Linked DNA regions of Homo sapiens: region 2 is linked to region 1. Evidence: fine-mapped expression QTL. A gene starts in region 1. The other region holds a variant in brackets. All regions are shown on one strand. Distances are from middle to middle.

Evidence for each region.
Region 2: its variant is fine-mapped to the expression of HSD17B7 in whole blood (INTERVAL, PIP above 0.99).

Annotation. Positions count from the first base shown.
Region 1 is chr1:162,789,416-162,792,336 of GRCh38, forward strand. HSD17B7 (hydroxysteroid 17-beta dehydrogenase 7) reads left to right here and starts at 1,287. Exons shown (of 9, transcript NM_016371.4): 1 at 1,287-1,420. The coding sequence starts at 1,386. RefSeq lists silencers at 1,215-1,274, 2,671-2,871.
Region 2 is chr1:162,810,497-162,813,417 of GRCh38, forward strand. It overlaps HSD17B7 (hydroxysteroid 17-beta dehydrogenase 7), which reads left to right. Exons shown (of 9, transcript NM_016371.4): 9 at 1,802-2,327. The coding sequence ends at 1,924. Among named protein-coding and RNA genes, the nearest start is that of HSD17B7, 21 kb to the left of the region's middle. The variant T/C (reference allele first, on the strand shown) is at 1,501.

The DNA of each region.
Region 1 (2,921 bases):
ATAGACAGTTCGCTTAGAAGGCATATAAGCTCTGAAAAACTGTAATTTTGAGTTGGTCTGGTGATAATTTCCAGGCCTTCTCCCTGCAACCGGTTACAGAAATAAAAACTCTCTTCCTCCCCAGCTCATCTGCATCTCGTTATTGGGCCTTGAAAAATAGCAGCCCAACCCTCAGTTTGGTCTGAGAACAGAAGGTTGTAGGGAGAGTAGCCTTTGATCCTTTGCTACTGGGGAGTGGGGAGATGGGGTTTTTCCTTCTGGTTTAGCTTTAGGAAGTTGGTGTTAATTGACCCTAGGCTCTCGGCCCCCAGACCCAGGTGTTTTCCTTTTGATCCAGCTTTGGGAAGCCAGCACCAATTGGTCTCAGATTCCCTACTTCCAGCCCTTGCTGTTTTTCCTTGATTGAGCTTTAGGAAGTCAGCACGAAGTGGCCTTAAGTACCCTGCCTCCAAACCCTATTCTGCCTCATTTTGGCAGAGTACTTTTATATGTCTTGGATCTAATAATAAAATATCGGGGCTTGTGTTTTGTATGCCTTTTGCTTTTCTTTTTCTAGCACTTTATTTTTTTGTATTTTCTAAAAGCACCCATCTGGGATGGCTTGGAGACAAAAACAGGTCCTTTAGCACAGTTTGAGATGCACTGATACAGAAGGTTACAGCACATTCTCAGTACTTCGGAGAATGAAGTTCTGAGATTCTGATTCCACGCCACATTCCAAGTTTTGAATACTGGTAATTTACGTCTGATTCTACATAAAGTTCTTAATAAAATCAGTGCTCATTTTCTCAAATAAGCTTCTTTAGAGGAGGAGGTCTGGGATCAAAAGTTGGGCTGTGAAGTGGCACAATGCCTGGATCTGTACATCCAAAAAGGAGTGGAAAATTAGATGATAATCGCCCAACTTTGGCTCCTAGACCCAAACCTTTTCTCTAAAATGGGCACTGGTGCAAATACCGTGAGGCCTTCCTGCAAAGAAGTGCCAATCTCAGGCGCCAGGGCACAGACCCAGTGCGTGTCACAGATCCTGTCCTGAGTGCTAGGCCGGGTGACGCCCCCACCAGGATTAAAGATCAGGCGCCCGCTGAGCCCTAGGAAGCAGTGACAGACACCTGCGCCTAGGCGGAGCGAGAAGAGCCTGGAATGGCTCCGGGCTTTGCGTCACGCAGCTCCGCCCCTCGGCCTATCTCACCCGACGCCGTCTCCGAGGGCAGGGAACGGTTGGCGGACTGAGATTGGAGGGATCAGCTCAGACTCGATGACGCAACGGGAGGCGGGGCGTGGCCGTACTCTGATTGGTGACGGGTGAGGCGGCCCGAAATCGTAGGACTTCCGAAAGCAGCGGCGGTGTTTGCTTCACTGCTTGGAAGTGTGAGTGCGCGAAGATGCGAAAGGTGGTTTTGATCACCGGGGCTAGCAGGTGAGGCCTCCTTTGGGTTGGCAGAGGCGGCAGCGGATCAGGGGTCCGAGAGAGCAGGGGTCTGCGACCCTCCACGAACGGACCCCGGAAGCGCCCGCCCCTGGCTTTGCCTAGGTTCCCCGGAGTCTGCAGCAGGTGTGGGGCATGTCGGCCTCTTGAGGTGCTCAGTAACTGGTGCTTTGTATTAAACATGACAGTGAAAAGGAAAACTAGAGCATCAGTAAGTGATGAGTGTCGCAGTGATGATCCTGAGGTTATCAAGGCAATGGGGTACTCAGGCGGGCTCCGCCCCTTTTCCATCTTTGCCTACTGTTCGTATTTATCGTCAGTGCCCAATATTTTGCTCCTGACCACGTGATCATGTCTTATACTCCAGGTGTTTTGTCTGTACAAGCCTTTTGCCTACAAATTTGAACACCCATGAACATTAGGACGGTGGAGAGAAAACAATCCCGTTTCATTTAGCTCAGTGCTAGAGAGCTAACATACTCTTCAGAAACCCAGAGAAAATTAATCTTTTCCTATGAAGGCATGGTTGGGGTGCAGAATAACCAGCTCATAATAATTCCAGGGTTGCTCGTTTAGTCTCTCAGCCTCTTCTGTTGCTTGTTTTACCTGTCATTTGCACTTCTGTGAAAAATGTGTGGAGGATGAAGCCAATCAAACCATTTTTCTACTAGTTGCATTTGGCATTTTTAAATGATTAAGACAGAGGACATGTTAAACATTTAAGATTGATCCACTTTCAATTATTTAACCACATGCGTATTAACTAAGCCAGCTTGGTAGGTGTCTGCATTTGGCAACTTTTTAGCATACCCTCTCAAGTGACTTTAACCGTTGATTGGTGCTTCTTATGTGGAAGGTACTGAGTAAGTCAGAATTGATTTTGTCTGTTTCTTTTACATATATTGTGACATGTGCAATTGTATATTAAATGCCTACTGTTCTCATGTGAGGACAAATAAATATTTTTGATGCTTTGTTGTTGGTGCTAATAGATTACTGATGGTTCCAGGCTCTTTTTGGGTTTTAACTATTAACATATTTGCCTGGAATCAGCTTAAGTCTTGAAAGAGAACTTATTACCCAGCTTTTCATTGCTATCAGCCAGGCTGGTCTGACTGCTGTCACCACTCCTATGCGGTTTTACAATGCTGGTTTTGAAGTTCTTTGTTTCCAAGTGGTGTACTCATCTAATATTTAGTGTATTCCTACCTTCTACTTAATCATGTTGAGTTCTTTCTTTTTCTATTATTTAATCATAGTTGTTGAGAGGGATTTGTACATCCTGCCATGTTACTGATGCCTCATCCTGAAAGATTCATCTGTTCCTTTATCAGAGATTTCTGGTGCTCCTTATGGTGTTTACGATACCAGTAGGTGGTAGAGCCCTTGCCCCTGAGGAGCCTAGACAGCAAAGTCAAAATGCACATAGGAAACAGCTAATAAGATGCTCTTTTGAGCCCTTACTGGTGATATATTAAATCATTTTCATGAG
Region 2 (2,921 bases), 21 kb after region 1:
GATATCCTTGTTAACTTTCTGTCTTGTTGATCTGTCTAATGTGGACAGTGGGGTGTTAAAGTCTCCCATTATTATTGTATGGGAGTCTAAGCCTCTTTGTAGGTCTCTAAGGACTTGCTTTATGAATCTGGGTGCTCCTGTACTGGGTGCATATATATTTAGATAGTTAGTTCTTCTTGTTGAATTGATCCCTTTACCATTATGTAATGGCCTTCTTTGTCTCTTTGATCTTTGTTGGTTTAAAGTCTGTTTTATCAGAGACTAGGATTGCAACCCCTGCCTTTTTTTGTTTTCCATTTGCTTGGTAGATTTCCCTCCATCCCTTTATTTTGAGCCTATGTGTCTCTCTGCACATGAAATGGGTCTCCTGAATATAGCACACTGATGGGTCTTGACTCTTTATCCAATTTGCCAGTCTGTGTCTTTTAGTTGGATCATTTAGCCCATTTACATTTAAGGTTAATATTGTTATGTGTGAATTTGATCCTGTCATTATGATGTTAGCTGGTTATTTTGTTTGTTAGTTGATGCAGTTTCTTCCTAGCATCGCTGGTCTTTACAATTTGGCATGTTTTTGCAGTGGCTGGTACCGGTTGTTCCTTTCCATGTTTAGTGCTTCCTTCAGGAGTTCTTGTAGGGCAGGCCTGGTGGTGACAAAATCTCTCAGCATTTGCTTGTCTGTAAAGGATTTTATTTCTCCTTCACTTATGAAGCTAAGTTTGGCTGGATATGAAATTCTGGATTGAAAATTCTTTTCTTTAAGAATGTTGAATATCGGCCCCCACTCTCTTCTGGCTTGTAGAGTTTCTGCCAAGAGATCCGCTGTTAGTCTGATGGGCTTCCCTTTGTGGGTAACCCGACCTTTCTCTCTGGCTGCCCTTAAAAATGTTATTTTCAAAATGTTCAAAAGTTTATTTAATTTTTAGCCTTTCAATTTTGTGAACAAAGAGGCTGTTCTTGAAGTTTAGGCTCTGTGTTGGCTTGATGAAAGGATATCACTATTTAAAAGGGCTGAAAGTTTGCCTGTACATACTGTTGAGATTTTCTGCATGAAACACAAGAATGTAAAATAACTATAGATTAAACTAGATAGAATCTTAAATTTCTTGCATGTAAAAGCATTTAGGAGAGAGGCAGTCTCAGGCTGCCATGGCAAGTCCACAAATTGTCAGGTACTCAAGTTCCTTGCAATCACCACCTGGCCATCTTTAGGGCATGGCCCTCAGGCTTGTGGCTCGAGAGTGGTATGGAAGAAGGGAAGAAAAAAGGGATGCTTTATTTCTCTTGAAGAGACTCCAGGTATTATTTACATCTCACTAGCCAGAACATAGTCTCATGGCTCTGGCACCCATTGTTTCAATGGAGGCTGAAGTATCGTCTTATATCCAGAGGGCAGTGAGCCCAGCTAAAACCAGGGCTCTTTTACTAAGCCAGATTGATATTAGGAAGTGAGTAGCCATTAAAAACTCACAAAACTCTTGATTTTTCTGTTTTGTCCTT[T/C]GATAACCAGTTGGTTGGTGTCTTCTGTTACTGGGCATATAAAAGTTGGGGGAGATAGCAAAACTCAGATCTTTCAGTCTTGCTGTTTAAGGGAAGCATCAGTGGGTTTGGTGAGTGTTGGAACTGAGACTGAGATTTAGTATGTCTTCAGGCTCTCAGCTTCTTCCACGTGTCTGCCACCATGGCCCTTTCCTGCTGCCTCCTTTCTTTTTATTTCATATATTGAATGCCTTTTTTTTATACAAATACTATTCATCTTATTTTTCATTTCTAGACATCTCTATTTTTGCTTCTTTTCCAGATGGACCTAGATGAAGACACTGCTGAAAAATTTTATCAAAAGTTACTGGAACTGGAAAAGCACATTAGGGTCACTATTCAAAAAACAGATAATCAGGCCAGGCTCAGTGGCTCATGCCTATAATTCCAGCACTTTGGGAGGCCAAGGCAGAAGGATCACTTGAGACCAGGAGTTCAAGACCAGCCTGAGAAACATAGTGAGCCCTTGTCTCTACAAAAAGAAATAAAAATAATAGCTGGGTGTGGTGGCATGCGCATGTAGTCCCAGCTACTCAGAAGGATGAGGTGGGAGGATCTCTTGAGGCTGGGAGGCAGAGGTTGCAGTGAGCTGAGATTGTGCCACTGCACTCCAGCCTGGGTGACAGCGAGACCCTGTCTCAAAATATGTATATATTTAATATATATATAAAACCAGAGCTGACAATGACACTCTGGAACATTGCATACCTTCTGTACATTCTGGGGTACATGGATTTCTACTGAGTTGGATAATATGCATTTGTAATAAACTATGAACTATGACTGTCTCTTTTCCTTCCTTTTGGAATGATCTCCAAGACTGTGTATGTGTATGCATATGAGAAAAAGATTGGGCCGGGCACGGTGGCTCAAGCCTGTAATCCCAGCACTTTGGGAGCCTGAGGTGGGCGGATCATGAGGTCAGGAGTTTGAGACCAGCCTGGCCAACATGGCAAAAACCCATCTCTACTAAAAATACAAAACTTAGCCAGGTGTGGTGGCGTGCACCTGTAATCTCAGCTACTTGGGAGGCTGAGACAGGAGAATCACTTGAACTCAGGAAGCAGAGGTTGCAGTGGGCCGAGATCGTGGCACTGCACTGCAGCCTGGGTGACAGAGCAAGACTCCATCTCAAAAATAAAAAATTGATTAAGTAAAAATATTAATTAGTTATTCTCTAGAGTGGTATCACATCAAAATTATTAGAGTTCTTTTCGGAAAGATTTTATGTAAAAATAAAAATTATTTGAGTCACCCAACAGAGTATCTGTTTATATTATTCTGCCAACTGGGGCCTAAGCTGTGCTCCATGGGACAAGAGGTGGACTTGAATAATTGTGACACAGGCACGCACTGCTCCTTTCTTTGGCCTGACCCCAGCA